Regions from separate parts of the Homo sapiens genome. Here all the other regions are linked to region 1. The links come from fine-mapping of genetic effects on gene expression. A gene starts in region 1. Each other region holds a variant in brackets. All regions are shown on one strand. Distances are from middle to middle.

Region 1 (2,762 bases):
TTGTTACTGCAAAACCATTTGCAAATAAACAAGGTGAGCGGATCTGGACTGGTGCTGTGCAAGCAACGGGACACCGGTGCAAAGCCTAGCCCCGCCTTGCAAAGCTAGCGTTACAGAGGCAGGGCTGACACCGGGCCCAGCCGGGACCCAAGCCAGCTCCACCGCCCACTGGAGACGCCCCCACCCCACCACCGAGCGCTACCCCCCGGGGATCCCCGACAGACCGCGGCAGGACCCCGCCTCGATCTGCTGGCGCCCGGTCCCTCCCCCAGGACACTTTCAAGCGGAGTCCCCCTTCCTCCGATAGAAGAAACCCCTGGGCCTTTGACCGAGGTTAGCCAGGCAGGCAGGGCGTCGGACAAGCCCAACGAGCCCACGAACTCGCAGCCCGCCTCCGGCGAATCTTGCAGCCCTGCCGGCCGACCCTTCAGGTCGCTGCCAATCCCGGAGCTGCGCGTGCGCAGCGAGTCCCGGCTGCGAGGCCCCTGACTCGCCAACTCTGCTGCTGAGCATGCGCAGCACACCCCAGGCAACAGAAACGGACCGCCGACCCCCACCAGCCCCGCTGCTGAGCATGCGCAGCCCACCCCAGGCGCCGGAAGCCGACCGCCAACCCCGTAAACTTCGCTGCTGAGCATGCGCAGCACACCACAGGCGCTGGGGGCTGACCGCCGACCCCTCAACGCCGCTGCTGAGCATGCGCAGCACACCCAGGCGCCGCGCAGGAGGCCCTGACCACCCAGCCCCACTGCTGAGCATGCGCAGCCCACCCCAGGCACCGGGAGCCGCCACGAACCCCCAAATCCCGCTGCTGAGCATGCGCAGCATGCCGCGGCTCCCAGGCCGCTGCCCGGCACCTGGAGGAGGCTGGGCTGTGCGCGGCGTTTGGGGGTCGGCGTCGCCCGCACGCTCTGCGAGGCTTGGGCTCGCGTACCTTCCAGTAGAGCACCCCGAGCCGCCGCAGCTGCTCCAGGCCCACTGGGCGGCCGGGGTCGGGGCGGTGGGGTTGCCGCGGGTCGCCCGGGGCGTCGTCCATATACCAGGCCTGCACCATGACGCGCAGTGCGGGTGCCGTGTTCGAACCCAGGGGCCGCGCTCGGAGCCCGTCGGCCGCGCTTTATCTTATAGGGAGGCGTGGACGCGCATGGGAGCCGGGATTGGGCGGCTGGTTGGAGGCAGGGCCGGCGCGGGGGAGGCCCCACGGCTCCGCTGTTTTCGGAAGCAAAGGCATTCAAGCCCCGACCCTGTCCTGGGCACCCTCGGACCTGCCTGAGGCCCGCGGCCCGGGGCCAGCCGTTCGCCAGACGCGCCGGGCAGGTGAAGCTCACCGTAGGCATCGCACGTGCCTTGTGTGTGCTGCCGCGGTCTCCCTGCACCTTCAGAGCAATCTTGTGAGGCAAACGACGTTAAACGTGTTTAGAGTATGGAAAGCAAATGCAAAAAAAAAAAAAAAAGAATAAGGATTTTGTTAAGCTCATGCAGTCCATATGGGCACAGTTGAGACTTCACAGCTCGGATCCCAGGTGAGACATTGTCCTCCACCTCCCCGCTCGCCAGACTTTTGCAGTGTCGGCATTCTGCAGTGCTACCCTGTACTTTTTAAACTTCCTCTTGTTTCCTCTTTTCATCGTTTCTCCCTTCCCCATACACTGTAATGTGCTAGTCTTAGAATAAAAACAAGCTTCCCCTATCCCATTCTGAATTTTTCAATGTAGCTAATAAAGTCCAGCCGCTTGACCATCCTAGATGTCTTTTCAAACCAACGAGTTGAAAAAGATCAGATTATCTCAGCCATTCCCTCAGTCTCTTTAACAAATAACGATAAAGCAGACAGGATTTAAATGAGACTGCTGTAAGAGCACAACCCCAATGCATGCAATTGACTCTTGAACTTCCAGAAATATTGCAAGAAAAATACACACTTATTTCATTTCTGTTCCCTTGCTCTAATGGCTTTGCAAATACATCCTCCTTAGAGAGCCTACCTCTCCACCTCTTCACTTGACCAGTTACTACTCATCCTTCAAGAACACACCTTAGACGCCATTGCCCATTTTTCTGCAGCACTCATGACAAACCTTCATGCAAGAATCTAATGGCAATCTCGCACCTCGCATTTTCTCCTTAAGCCACTGCAATAAGGCTTCGCTTCTCACCACTGGGGAACTGCTAATGACTGCCATATTGCCAGATCCAATCATGGCACTTCTGTTCTTACCAGCAACATTCGTCACAGTTGCCCACGCCCTTCTTGAAACATTTTCTCATTTTCCTTCATGAGGGCATCTTGGCTGCTCCTTCCCAGGCCCCTCCTAGCTCCTGCTCCTCTAACCACTGGTTAGTGGAGCGTTCCAGACTCTCCTCGTCCTGTTCCTATCCACTCACTCCAGGCGACTTTCCATGCTGTGCTGCCGGCTCCTGCAGCCACATCTCCAACCTGGACCTCATTCCAGAACCTCAGGCTTGAGTATCCAGTTGGTGTTGTCACATACATGGCTAATCAGTGTGTCAAACCTAACATGGCCAAAACAACTGATTCCCCACACACACCCCCAAACATGCTTCTCCCTAACCTTTCCCGTCTCAGTGAACGGCAGCACTGACTGCCCAGTGGCTTAATAAAAAAATCTAGGTGTACTCTCAGTTTTGCTTTTCCTCACCCTCAAGATCCAATCCAATCTATCAGCAAGTCATGTTGCTTTGACCTTCGAAACACACCGCAAATCCATTCACTTCTCTCCAGCCCAACTCTTTCTGCAGTC
Region 2 (2,762 bases), 30 kb before region 1:
ACTCAGATGAAATCCTATTTGGATTTTAGAATGGGTGGGTTTATAACTCAGATGAAATCCTATTTGGATTTTAGAATGGGTGGGTTTATAACTCAGATGAAATCCTATTTGGATTTTAGAATGGGTGGGTTTTTTTGAACAGTTGGTGCAAAATAAACACAAGCATTTTTAACATGGACAATGAAACACATTAAACTATAATAATAAAGGCAGGCAGGCAAGCACGTCCATGGGAAAGTGGTTTCAGTTGAAAAGTAAGCTCCACCCCAGAACTGTCACACCTGCACTGCTCACGCCAGGGACAGACCGTGATAGGAGCACAGCCTCCTGTCCTCCAGCCCCCGCCCAGCCCAGCTTCCCCAGCCCTGCTGACCTGGGGGCTGTCTTCATGCCTGGATGCTTCTAGTGCCCTGCCCCCGCCACGTTTAAGAGAATGTTTTGAAAAATAATCACTTCCCAAGGCAGAAAACAGAGAGCAAAACACAGAGCGATTCAGAAGAGCCGCCTGCTCAGGGGTGCCCCGGATGTTATCTGCAACCTGGCACGGCCCGACTGCAGGCCTCAGCCCTGTGCCCTGGCCCCACCTGAGCAATTCCTCTGCCCTCTTCAGGGCCCAGCCAGGTGGTCACAGCAAATCTGGTCAGGACCAGGGACAATCAGCCCGCAGGGACGTCCTGCCTCAGCCATCCACTTGATGGTGACGACTGCCCCGACCCCTCTCTCTCAGCAGCTGTGCCTGCCTGGAGCCCCCGTACCCCTCACCCGGCCGTAAGGGCTGCTGCACCCTCTGCTCTCCTCACTGGACTGTGGCGTCCTGAGGAACCCACCAGCCACTTTCTTATGCATCTCGGCACTCAGGGGACAAAACCAGCTCTCCCGGAGGGGCTTGTGGGACCGAGTTTCACTGAGAGACATGGTGAATGGAAGAACTTCACGCATCATAGCAGGCAGAGGACTCCGGGAGCCCTTGACCCAACCCACAGGTCATCTTACCAGTACTAGCGACTCACTGCGGTAGTGAGTTGGGTGAGGCCCAGAAGTCCCTCCTGGTCACTTGCGA[T/A]GGGATGAAGATATTTTTGAAACCTAGAGAGACAGGGTTATCTAACAGAGTAAGAAAGCCAGGGCTGGCTTCTTTCCCCTCGGAATGAAGTTCAAGCCTCCTCTGTCCCATAAGTGCACAAATGTCCACCGTGCTAACTTTACACGCTCCATTTTTACTTTGGGCAAGCAGGATTTGCAGCGCGGGAGAGATGACCTGGACATGAGCCGGCAGTGGCCTGCGCACCACAGGAGGCCCTTCAGCCGACGGCCATGTCTGCGCTGCGCGATCCTGTCCCTGTCAGAGCCGCTGACCTGGGTCTAGTCCCACAGAACCTCTCCTGGAGCCTTGGGGACCAGGGCTGGCAGCTGAAGTCACTCCTCTGCGTAATGGAATGAGAAGTAAGGCTTTAAGACGTCAACACTGTGTCTACACTGTGTCCCACCGTGAGCAGACGTGGCTTGGTCCCTGATCCCCCAGGGCAGGCACCCCCAGGCACAGGCTCCTTCACATTGGGCTTCTGTCACTTGTAACAAAAAGAGCCCCAACTAAGACAACAGAAGAGATCGTGTAACGACATTTCGAAGCACAGAGTCGGAATCCTGGGAAGACGAGAACGGCAATCCTGGGCAAAGCTCCAGGCAGATGCAGGGCCAGAGCCTCCCTCAGGGCTCCTCCCAGGACCTCCCCCCAGGGCTCCTCCCAGGACCTCCCCCCAGGGCTCCCGGCCTCTGCAGGTTGCCTGGGACAAGAGGTCTTCCTTCCTAGTCCCTCTAACCTCTCCACTGAGAGCACCCCATGAGCCTGGCGCCCCAGGCACTGTGCAGGAGGGAACAGCAGGCCGGCAGCCTCTGCCCTGTGGGTCCGCACAGCCTGGGGAGCGGGGACAGAATGCACCCCCCACTGCGATCCCACCTGTCTGCCTCCATCCTTCCCCATCCACTCCGAGGCCGGACGTTGCCTGACTAGGACAGCTCTTCTCCTATTTCTCAGATGTCTGTTCCATTGGTTTCTCTTTGTCAAGATGTCTGATCCACCGTCAGCAGTTTCTTGAGTGGAGGTGAGCACTGTGGTTAGGGAGTCACACTTAGGCACCAGTTACCTACGCCATGTAACAACACTGCTCTGAAACTTGTGCCTTATGACAGGAACATACATTCTCGCCTGCAGTCTCCGGGTTAGCTGGGTGGTGTGGGGCTCTCCTGAGGTTGCCCTCAAGGTGACGGCTGGGGCTGCATCATCTGAAGGCTCAACGGGGGCTGGAGGACCTGCTTCCACACACCCCGAGCCAGCAGCACTGCTGGCAGAGGCCTCAGACCTCCCCAGAGAGCTGCACAAGTGTCCTGCGGACGTGGCAGCCAGCTTCCCCAGAGCGCAATGTCTGAGAGCAAGCAGGAAACTACATGCCAACAGAGGCCACCCACAGCCACCTCAGCCGCTTCCTACTCATTAGAAACAAGTGACCAACAGAGACCATGCTGAAGGGGAGGATAAATTGAGGGAGATCGTCAGAAACTTGTGGTTGTATTTTTTAAAACAACACACTTAATTTTTTAAAAAATTGTTGTCATTTCACTGGATTTGGGGCACTGGGGAGACTGACCCACATCTTCTCCTCCACCACCCAGATTCCTATCATGTGCTGATCTGAACGTTTAATTTTCAGAAAGGAGAAAGTCTCCTCCAAGTTCTTCAGGAAATTCATCCCAATATTCATCAGATG
Region 3 (2,762 bases), 470 kb after region 1:
TAAATCATCTCTCTCAAGTTCAAAGTTCCACAGATCTCTAGGGCTGAGGCAAAATGCTGCTAGTCTCTCTGCATAGCAAGAGTGACCTTTACTCCAGTTCACCAAAAGTTCCTCATCTCCATCTGAGACCACCTCAGCCTGGACTTTAATGTCCTTATTATTATCAGCATTTAGGTAAAAGCCATTCAATAAGTCTCCAGGAAGTTCCAAACTTCCCCCCTTTTCCTGTCTTCTGATCCCTCCAAGTCTCTAGGAAGTTTAAAACTTTCCTACATTTTCCTGTCTTCTTCTGATCCCTCCAAACTGTTCCAACCTCTCCTTGTTACCCAGTTTCAAAGTCGCTTCCACATTTTTGGGTATCCTTATAGCAGCACCCCACTTCTTATACCAGTTTACTGTATTATCCTGTTCCCATGTTGCTAATAAAGACATACCCAAGAGTGGGTAATTTATAAAGAAAAAGAGGTTTAATTGACTCACAATTCCACATGACTGGGGAGGCCTCACAATCATGGCAGAAGGCAAAAGAGGAGCAAAGGCATGTCTTACATGGAAGCAGGCAAGAAAGCATGTGTAGGGAAATTACTCCTTATGAAACCATCAGGTCTCATGAGACTTATTCACTATCATGAGAATAGCAAGGGAAAAACCCGCCCCCATGATTCAATTACGTCCCACCAGGTCCCTTGCACAGCACACGGAAATTATGGGAACCACAGTTCAAGATGAGATTTGGGTGGGGATGCAGCCAAACCATATCAGATGATTACTTTCAGTTTTTCTTATTTTCTAATAAAAGTGCTTAGGAATATAAACTTCCCAATATTTTATCAGCATACCACAAATTTAGATATATAGTATTTTCTTAAGTTAAATCTTAAGTAGTTTTTAATTTTTATTATGATTTTTTATGATTTATTAAAAATGTTACAAGAAAAATAATAATGAAAAAAGAATGTTTGGGCATTGCTGTGGCTTGTCACTGATTTCCAGCACAATTGTACTGTAGTCAGAAACTGTGATCTGTAAAATATCAATTTTTTTGCCATTTGTGATGTCTTGCCTTGTGGTTTTTTAGGTATTAAATTTTTATAAATTAAATGTTTCATGCATTAAA[A/G]ATATTTATTCTATAATTCTTGGTTAAAATTCTCTACGTATGTTTAGTTAAGATTGTTTATGAGTTGTTCAAATGTTCTCTACTGAGGCCAACAGCTTTTATATAGAACGTGATTCCTATCAAAAGTTGAAGACACAAAAACACCTTTGAGAAACTTTCTTAATGACTTCCAATTGTCAGCACAGAAGGTGTCCAGAAGTCTATGGGAACTTGCCAGCATTTGGCATTGTCCGTTTTTAAAAAATATTTTGCCCTTAAGAGTGTTGTTTTAATTTGCAGTTTTCTAATGCAAGTGATATTGAGAACCTTTTATATGCTTATTTGCCATTTGTATATTGTCTCTGGTGAGGTATCTGTTCAGATATTTTGTCTGCTTTTTCCTTGGGTTGTTTTCTTGTTATTGAATGTAAAAGTTCTTTATATATTCTGGATACAAATCTGTAATTAGATATGTGGTTTTCATATATTTTCTCCAGGTTTGAGGCTTGTGTTATCAATCACTTAATAGTATATTTTATAGAGCAGAATCTTTAAATTTTAATTAGTCCAACCTAAATGCTTTCTTTCACGAAACTGCTTCTAGTGTTGTAGCTGAAAATTTATCACAAAATCCAAGGAAACAAAGGTTTCCCTTTAAGAGTTTTTTAGTGTTGTATTTTTCATTTAGGCGTATGATTCATTTTCAGTTAATGTTTGTGAAAGGTGTAATGTCTGCATATAGGTTCTTTTTTTGGGATATGGACATCCAAATGTTAAAGCACCATGTGTTGAAAAGACTACCCTTTCTTCACTGAATTGCCTTTGCTCCTTTGTCAAGTATCAGCTAACTATATTTATGTGGGTCTATTTCTGGGCCCTCTATTCTGTTCCCTATTGATCTATTTGTCTTTTCTTTCATGAGTATCATGTGGTATTGATTACTGTAGCTTTACAACAAATCTTGAAATTGGTAGTGTTAAGTATTTCAACTTTTTTTTTTCTATTTTATTGTATTGTTTGTTCTAGGTCTCATCTTTTCATATAAACTTTAAAATCAACTTGTTGATTTCTACAAAATAACTTTCTGAGATTTTGACTGGAATCATGTTGAGTCCATAAGTCAAGTTGGATAGAATTAATACCTTAACAATATTGAATTTTCTGATGCATGGATACTGAATATCTCCCCGGTTATTTAGATTTTCTTTGTAGTTTTTTATGTATAGATTCTGTACATACTCTGTTGGATATATACCTAAGTATTTAATTTTGGGAGAGGAGCAGGTTATTGGAACAGATATATTAAAAAAAATCTTGAATCCCAATGTTCATTTCTCATATATAGGACAGCAGTTGACTTTTATAGGTTAACCTTGTCTCCTGTGACCTTGCTATGCTCGTTTATTAGTTCCAGGAGTGTTATGATTCTTTAGAATGTTTTACATAGATAATCATATCATCTGTGACTAGAAATAGTTTTATTTCTTTATTTATTTAGTTCCTTTATTTCATGCACTAGGTAGGAATTCCAGCATGATATTAAATAGGAGTGATGAGAAGGGGACATTCTTGACTCGTTTCCAGTCTTAGGCCAAACAAGTTCAATTTCTCACCATTATGAAAACTATATATTTTTTGTAGATATTTTAACAAGCTAAGAAATCTT

What was found. PIP is the estimated chance that this variant, and not a neighbour inherited with it, causes the effect.
Region 2: its variant is fine-mapped to the expression of ADI1 in tibial nerve (GTEx, PIP 0.93).
Region 3: its variant is fine-mapped to the expression of ADI1 in putamen (GTEx, PIP 0.99). The same link has a PIP of 0.9 or more in nucleus accumbens.

Annotation. Positions count from the first base shown.
Region 1 is chr2:3,518,434-3,521,195 of GRCh38, forward strand. It overlaps ADI1 (acireductone dioxygenase 1), which reads right to left and starts at 1,098. Exons shown (of 4, transcript NM_018269.4): 1 at 935-1,098. The coding sequence starts at 1,054. LOC124907725 (a long non-coding RNA gene) reads left to right here and starts at 1,113. Exons shown (of 2, transcript XR_007086195.1): 1 at 1,113-1,523. RefSeq lists silencers at 5-204, 685-744, 825-1,144, 1,215-1,344 and enhancers at 764-1,285, 1,286-1,806.
Region 2 is chr2:3,488,610-3,491,371 of GRCh38, forward strand. No RefSeq gene overlaps it. Among named protein-coding and RNA genes, the nearest start is that of TRAPPC12-AS1, 6.7 kb to the left of the region's middle. The variant T/A (reference allele first, on the strand shown) is at 1,061.
Region 3 is chr2:3,991,156-3,993,917 of GRCh38, forward strand. No RefSeq gene overlaps it. Among named protein-coding and RNA genes, the nearest start is that of LINC01304, 19 kb to the left of the region's middle. The variant A/G (reference allele first, on the strand shown) is at 1,118.